Homo sapiens: one gene and its partner. The protein of the gene in region 2 purifies or fractionates together with the protein of the main gene of each other region. This does not show direct contact. Each region holds a gene or a part of one and is shown on either strand. Other genes may lie near its edges.

Region 1 (3,820 bases), on a different chromosome or scaffold from region 2:
TAAAAGAAATAAGTTAATCAGATGGAATGTGTCTACACTTGAGTGCTGCATCTGAAGAATTAGAAATGTATACTTTTCCCCATGGCTTGGGCTTGAGTTTTACCACTGCCAAAATTCCATGTAATTGCCTCTTAGACAATCAAGGTTATTACAAGTAAATAAAATTGTGTTTGTGTATGTGTTCACAAATAACCCTGATTGTCAAAAGAGAGCAAAAAAATAGCTCACAAAGGCTTATGATCTAACAAAGAACCAGAATGTTTGATCCCTCCTCTCTCCTTCTGTCTCTTACCCACATCCATACATACACGCTCACACCCAAAAGAAGAAACAATGGGGAGAATTTACTTTCTAATTTGATAGAAAGTTACTCACCTAACGAGCGCCAAAGGCCTCGCTCCTTTTTCCTTGCCATTTCCTCCTGTACTTTACAAAGCATATCTTCAATGTTCATAACCACCTCAATGAGGTCAGCCCGGGCTCCTTCAATCTCTAACTCTGTCCTTCCTGGGCTGATAATTTCTGTGATGGAGACACTTGAAGTTTTCTGAAGCTGAGACAAAATGTCATGTTCCTTTCTCCCAAGGTACAGAATATGATTATTCTCAATGATGTGGTGGTTCTGGAGACTCAGGATTCTTTGGATCCATGCGTGGGCCTCATACATCTCTTCCACGTTGAATCCCATCAGATTGATGGCAGGAGATCTAGCTTCAAGCCCATTTTCTCTTTTCTCCTCTCTGGTTGACTGGGGGACTGAAATGACTATAATAAGCAACCATGGAAGACTAGCAGTTTTTTGTTTTTTTTTTGAGATGGAGTCTCGCTCTGTCTCACAAGCTGGAGTGCAGTGCTGCGATCTCAGCTCACTGCAAGCTCCGCCTCCCGGGTTCACGCCATTCTCCTGCCTCAGCCTCCCGAGTAGCTGGGACTACAGGCGCCCGCCACCAAGCCCGGCTAATTTTTTGTATTTTTAGTCGAGACGGGGTTTCACCGTGTTAGCCGGGATGGTCTCAATCTCCCGACCTCGTGATCTGCCTGCCTCGGCCTCCCACAGTGCCAGGATTACAGGCGTGAGCCAACGTGCCCGGCCGACTAGTGGGTTTTAAAACAGTGCAGAACAAAACACCATGGCCAGTGTTTTACCCCTATGATATTGTCACCACTGTCAGCAGTAGCAGCTTCAATTAAGTACCTATCTCTGAAAGCTGCATTGGGTATGAAGGAAATCAACCTGTATCGTTTACAGCCTCCTTGGGAACACAGAGTTTAGCTTGTAATGGATTAGCTTTATCGTCTCTTGCCTCTGCTATGTTGCATTTGGCAGTTCACAGATGAGTTCACCTTGTGATCTCACCCTGGATGTTAACTAAGTATTATTTCCTGCTGAATAGGATTTTCCTTAACCTCTTGCTACTAGTTTTAAAATCAAACATCTCTGAAAGACACAGAGCTTGAAGAGTCAAAATTATTTTTTAAAAAACAAACATGAATCTCTGATTTTAAGAATAATACATGTTTATTATTTAAAAATTGGGAAATTATCGACATATAATGGAAAGAAGAAATACCTGTAATTCCACTACTCAGGATTCCTCACAACCTTATGAGAAAGATACTAGTAGTTGTCCCATCTCACCAACAAGGAAACTGATTCACAGAGTCATTAAGTAACTTGCCCATGGCTATAGGACTAGTTAGTGGTGGCCATGAAGCTAGTAGGTATGGGCATCTGACTCCAGTGCTCCCACATATGCCTCCCAGTGAGTAATATCTGAATAGCAGTGGAAATTCTCATCTTTCTCCTGAGATCTCAGTTGTGTGGTACAGGAGCTACAAAAGAAGTATAAGGACAGACCTAGAAGTAAGATGGGGAGGATGGCCTTCCTCTGAGTAAAGATAAAAAAGACAAAAGCCAAGGTTTTAGACAACAGTAAGAAGTAACCCAGGTTTTATATTGGAGGCATACTTTTTTTAAAACCCTTGTTCTGTCTAGGAGATTATATTATTTTTTAGGAGAAAATAAAAACAATGCATAGTGATATTGCATTTATCCATTATTATCAAGAGAAACTTCTTTTTCTTCTTCTTCTTCCTCTTCTTCCTTTCTCCTCTCCCTCCCCCTACCCCTTTCTTCTCCTCCTCCTCCTTCTACTACTACTTTTTTTTTTTTTTTTTTTTTTTAGAGACAGGGTGTCACTATGCTGGTCTTGACCTCCTGGCCTCAAGCAATACACCCACCTTGGCCTCCCAAAGCACTGGGACTACAGGCATGAGTCAGCATGCCTGGCCAATAATCATAATAATAATAATACTAATTTTTTTTTTGAGACAGAGTCTCGCTCTGTTGCCCAGGCTGGAGTGCAGTGGTGCAATCTTGGCTCACTGCAAGCTCCGCCTCCCGGGTTCACACCAGGCTGTCGCCCAGGCTGGAGTGTAGTGGCGCAATCTCGGCTCACTGCAGCCTCCGCCTCCTGGGTTCAGACGATTCTCCTGCTGCAGCCTCCCGAGTAGCTGGGATTACAGGCGCCCACCACCACACCCGGCTAATTTTTGTACTTTTAGTAGAGATGGGGTTTCACCATGTTGGCCAGGCTGGTCTTGAACTCCTGACCTCATGATCTGCTCGCCTTGGCCTCCCAAAGTGCTGGGATTACAGGCGTGAGCCACTGCACCCGGCCAATAATTATTATTCTAACTTTAGTATATGTGTTGGCAAAGCGAGCACTATTCTTCTAGATAAGTAAATTGTTCGGATCACTAAAGGATAACTCTTCTAGCACCAAAATACACTGAATTTTAACTCTGAGTTATCTATTTATTTTTTTGAGACCAAGTCTCCCTCCGTTGCCCAAGCTGGAGTGCAGTGGCACAATCTCAGCTCACTGCAACCTCCGCCTCCTGGGTTCAAGCGATTCTCCTGCCTCAGCCTCCTGAGTAGTTGGGATTACAGGCACACGCCACCATGCCTGGCTAATTCTTTTTTGTATTTTTAGTAGAGATAAGGTTTCACCATGTTGGCCAAACTGGTCTCGAACTCCTGACCTCAGGTGATCCACTTGCCTCGGCCTCCCAAAGTGCTGGGATTACAGGCATGAGCCACCGTGCCCGGCTGAATTAAATATTTCTAATGATAACGTACCACCTCTCTGCCTTCCTAAATAGTTTTTTGTTTGTTTGTTTGTTTTTTGTTTTTTTTTGAGACAGTTTCCCTCTTGTTGCTCAGGCTGGAGTGCAATGGCGCAATCTTGGCTCACTGCAATCTCCACCTCCCACGTTTAAGCGATTCTCCTGCCTCAGCCTCCCGAGTAGCTGGGATTACAGACATGTGCCACCATGCCCGGCTAATTTTGTATTTTTAGCAGAGATGGGATTTCTCCATGTTAGTCAGGCTGGTCTCGAACTCCCGACCTCAGGTGATCCGCCTGCCTCAGCCTCCCAAAGTGCTGGGATTACAGGCGTAAGCCACGGTGCCCGGCCCTTCCTAAATAGTTTATTTAACCTTTCCTTGATAATCTGAGATCATCATCATTAATCATTTTGTTTATTTGTCACCCAGGTTGGAGTGCAGTGGCACAATCATGGCTCACTGCAGCCTTGACCTCCCCGGGCTTAGGTGATCCTCCCATCTCAGCCTCCCAAGTAGCTGGGACTATAGGTATGCACCACCACACCTGGCTAATTTTTGTATTTTTTGTAGAGATGGGTTTTAACATCTTGCCCAGGCTGGTCTCGAACTCCTGACCTCAAGTGATCCACCTGCCCTGGCCTCCCAAAGTGCTGGGATTACAGGCTTGAGCCGCCATGTCCCTTGATTAAT
Region 2 (3,820 bases):
AGTGTACCCACATAACAATGAAACCTTAAGCACCAAGTCTCTACTGGGTTTCCCTGAGCAGGAACATTCCACCTGTGTTACTGCATTTTTCCCTGCTGGAGAAAGGAGCATACTCAGTGTTTCCCCTCAGAGGAGGGAGAAAGCACTGGAAGTCTGAGTTCTCCCGACTGTGCCTGTTCCTTTTTCCCTTCCGGATTCTGTCATGTGTCCTTTCACTGTAATAAACCTTAGCCGTTGAGTGCAACTATATGCTCAGCCCTGTGAATCCTTCTGGGACTCAACAATCCTAAATCACTGAATGTGGCCTTGGCAACCCACAAATCACAGAATTTTCAGAACTACCTCATATACACTTCTTAGCATGTTTCTGCATTTATTTCCTTAGGTTCTACTTTCCTAGAAGCAGATCTGCCAAATTAAATGGTATGTGGCATTTTAAATCTTGATACATATCACTACAACTCCCTATAGGAAGACTGTATAAAATTTATCCCTGTGTAAATGCATAATAAGTATTTACCACACAGCCTTGCTGACCACAAGTATTCATCTTTTTTGCTAGAAACAAAATCTTTATTGCTGTAAGATGTGTTTCTTTGCCCAATTTCTTATTTTCTTATTGACTTATTAAGAGTTCTCTCTATATATGAAGGATACTTGTATGAAGAAATTTACTACAAACCTTTAGAACTTAACAAATTTATTATTTCTATTTACAGAAGTTAAATCCTTTATGTTTCCAGATTTGGTATAATACTAGGAAAGGCTTTCCTCACCTATTTAAAAATATTTTCTATATTTTCTTCTAGAATTTCTAAGGAATCTAGAATTTAGCATACAGTCTTTAATCGATCTGGAATTCTCATATATGCTGTGAAGTAGATCTAACTTTTAGATTAACCAGCAGTCCCAGCATAGGGGTGAGCTATACTTTCTTCATTTGGCTTACCTATATTTTCTGATCCCTACAACAAACACATGTTATTTTATATTTGTGTAAAGTGAAGTTTGTTTTTTTTAATTTTAGATTCATCCTAATTCTTTTTTTTTTTTTTTTTTGGAGATGGAGTTTTGCTCTTGTTGCCCAGGCTGGAGTGTAATGGTGCGATCTCAGCTCACTGCAACCTCCGCTCCCTGGGTTCAAACAATTCTCCTGCCTCAGCTTCCCGAATAGCTGGGATTACAGGCACACGCCACCACGCCCAGGTAATTTTTGTATTTTTAGTAGAGATAGGGTTTCACCATGTTGGCCAGGATGGTCTCGAACTCCAGACCTCAAGTGATCCACCGGCCTCGGCCTCCCAAAGTGCTGCAATTACAGGCCTGAGCCACCGTGCCCAGCCCAACCTAATTCTTTAAAAATAAACTGCTTCACCCAGGAGTTCGAAGCTGCAGTGAGCTATGATCTTGGTCTCTTTAAAAAAACAAAAAACAAACAAAAACTTTAAAAATTGCTTGGGGTTAAATTCCAGTTACCTGTCTTTTGGATCCCAGCTGAAAAAAACATTTAAGTCTCTGTTGTCTCGCAAATCTTCCCATGGAATGTCATCTTCTTCTGGCCTAAGGTTCATTGACTTTATACTTTCTGCTAAACTGGTTGATCTGTGATAGAGAAAAATCCACATATTATTTTAATAGTAAAATAGCCAGAAAATATTATTAATCAGGACTTCCTGTTTTACTAGACAGGAAGGGAAAGAGGAAGGAAGGGCTCATAATAAGGTGAAATAGAACCAAGCGCAGATCAAACTGGCTTGCTACATGGCAAGAAAAAGGCTTCTGGAAGCCCACACAAAACAAAGGGGATCAGCATTAATTCCTGAAATCTCTTGATTTGTAGGGGAGGCGGAACCTTCGTAAGCACAATATGGACCAGGCATTGATGACCATGACCTAAATGGCTTCTGTAATGGTCTCAAGATGTTGCTGGCAGTACTCTACCATTCCCCATGACATGTGCCAAGTTCTGTTTCCCCACTGTCTCTCTCCCTTTTTTCCCCCTATTTTACCTTAAGCCTGCCAATAACACCCATGAGCCCATTAATGGCTCTTAACAACTGATCTAATCCCTTAGTTCCTTTATAGCTCTCATGCAATACTTACATATTTGCTTCAAGTAGAAGGTCTAACAGCATCCGTTCAGTACGGACTTGTGCAAAATGAAGAGAATTATTCAGCCTGTTCCTAAAAGCGATAAACTCTGGGATCTTCTCAAATGCACCATATTTGTAAGCTTGAATAATATATTCTGAGGTCTGAGAAGGAAAGACATCACCTTGGTATAAATAGTTCACAAGTCAGGCAATGTAAGCAAACCTTGCCAGCCAAAACAAAACACTCAAACTAAAATTAAGTTTTAAATCTAATCTTTAAAGGTCTTGGTCACCAAGTAGAATATTAGCTTTTTAAAATGTTTTTCTTCCTTCTTATACTTTAGACAAATGTCTCCTTTACTAATATTACTAATTGTAATAACCAGCTTCTGCCACCATCACATAAGCCTTCTCTTGGCAGTCATGTCTTTCAATTCAATAGGAACTGAGGTTTTGTTTTGCCACATCAGTCAAAAATTTGGTTAGTGCCATTCTGGAAGGGATGTTACTCCATGTTTTTCTGCATCTAAGATAAACTGTGTTTCATACAAAGGTTCCAAAAGCACCAGAATAATAGAACCACCTGCCCCCCGCCCCCCCAAATAAAAACCACTCTCCTTCAGAAAAAGACAGGCTGCTCCTTGGTTTTGCTTATTTCTGAATACTGTATTAGAAACACAGGGCATATGAGCATTACGTCAGGATAGAAGTAAGACACCAAACAAAAGACCTATCAAAATTCATGTCATAATCTATTCTGAGGACAAAGACTTCAAGAACCAAGTTTCTTGTCCATCTACATTACGTAAGACCTCTGCTGGAAATTTCCTTAAACAAGTATGTGAAGGGAACATTCACCACATGTGCTTTAATTGTAGCTTAATACATATACAGAGATCAAACATTACAGAACAGAGGCAAGATAAAGAATTCTAAGCAGAAATTCTGGCACAATAGAAGAAAATCTCAGGGAAGAACATTTCATGGGTGTGGGTCTATGCCATCAGGATCAGAAGACAGGAGATTACCCCTTTGGGCCAAGGAAACTATTATGCTCAAAGCTGATGTCTGCCCCCAAAAAAGATCCTTTCTAGAAAAAACAGTCTTTTTACACAGCCTCAGTTAATCAGCTCTGCCCCCATCTCCATTACGTCTGAATAATTTGCCCAGTAGGAAAATAGGCCAATAGTCAACAACATACCCTCTGATATACAGCCTTGCAGGGTTCATTTCAGGCCGCGGGATTGCGCCACGGGCGCTAATTCAACTGCATTCGATGCGGCTTTTAAACCCCCATGGGACACCTCGGCGAGCTGTTTGCCTGCAGTATCTGGAGAAATTAAAGACGGACGGACACAAGAAAATTAAAAAGATTACTTGTGATCCTGCAGGTTTCAAGAAGGACTACCTGAAAAAGCTCGAGTATACCTTCTAGCTTGATTAAAGGACAGTGATACACCCTATCAAGAGGAGGCCAGGATACTCTAAACACATATGCCTATCCTATGGCCCCTTGGCTTAGAAAACACAGCAAGGTTTACTACTATTAGCCCTTGTAATAGGAACTTACAGCTGGGGAAAAAAAAACAGCTGGTTAGGAACACATGATTCAGTAATTAATCAAAAAGAAAATATGACTTTAGTAATTCCAATCAAAGTTATAATTACAGTTCCAAAGTATGCTATGATTTAAGGAGGGAACCCAGCCTTACCAAGTGTAGAGGCAG

Evidence for each region.
Region 1: the proteins of NAA25 (region 2) and PARP9 fractionate together in Homo sapiens (co-fractionation; one large-scale study listed by BioGRID). This does not show direct contact.

Annotation. Positions count from the first base shown.
Region 1 is NC_000003.12:122,540,097-122,543,916, forward strand, and holds part of PARP9 (protein mono-ADP-ribosyltransferase PARP9), read right to left. Parts: intron 757-3,820; coding exon 376-756; intron 1-375.
Region 2 is NC_000012.12:112,046,189-112,050,008, forward strand, and holds part of NAA25 (N-alpha-acetyltransferase 25, NatB auxiliary subunit), read right to left. Parts: intron 3,424-3,820; exon of another isoform or gene 3,295-3,423; intron 2,256-3,294; coding exon 2,104-2,255; intron 1,603-2,103; coding exon 1,477-1,602; intron 424-1,476; exon of another isoform or gene 1-423. UniProt on the Homo sapiens protein: Non-catalytic subunit of the NatB complex which catalyzes acetylation of the N-terminal methionine residues of peptides beginning with Met-Asp, Met-Glu, Met-Asn and Met-Gln. May play a role in normal cell-cycle progression.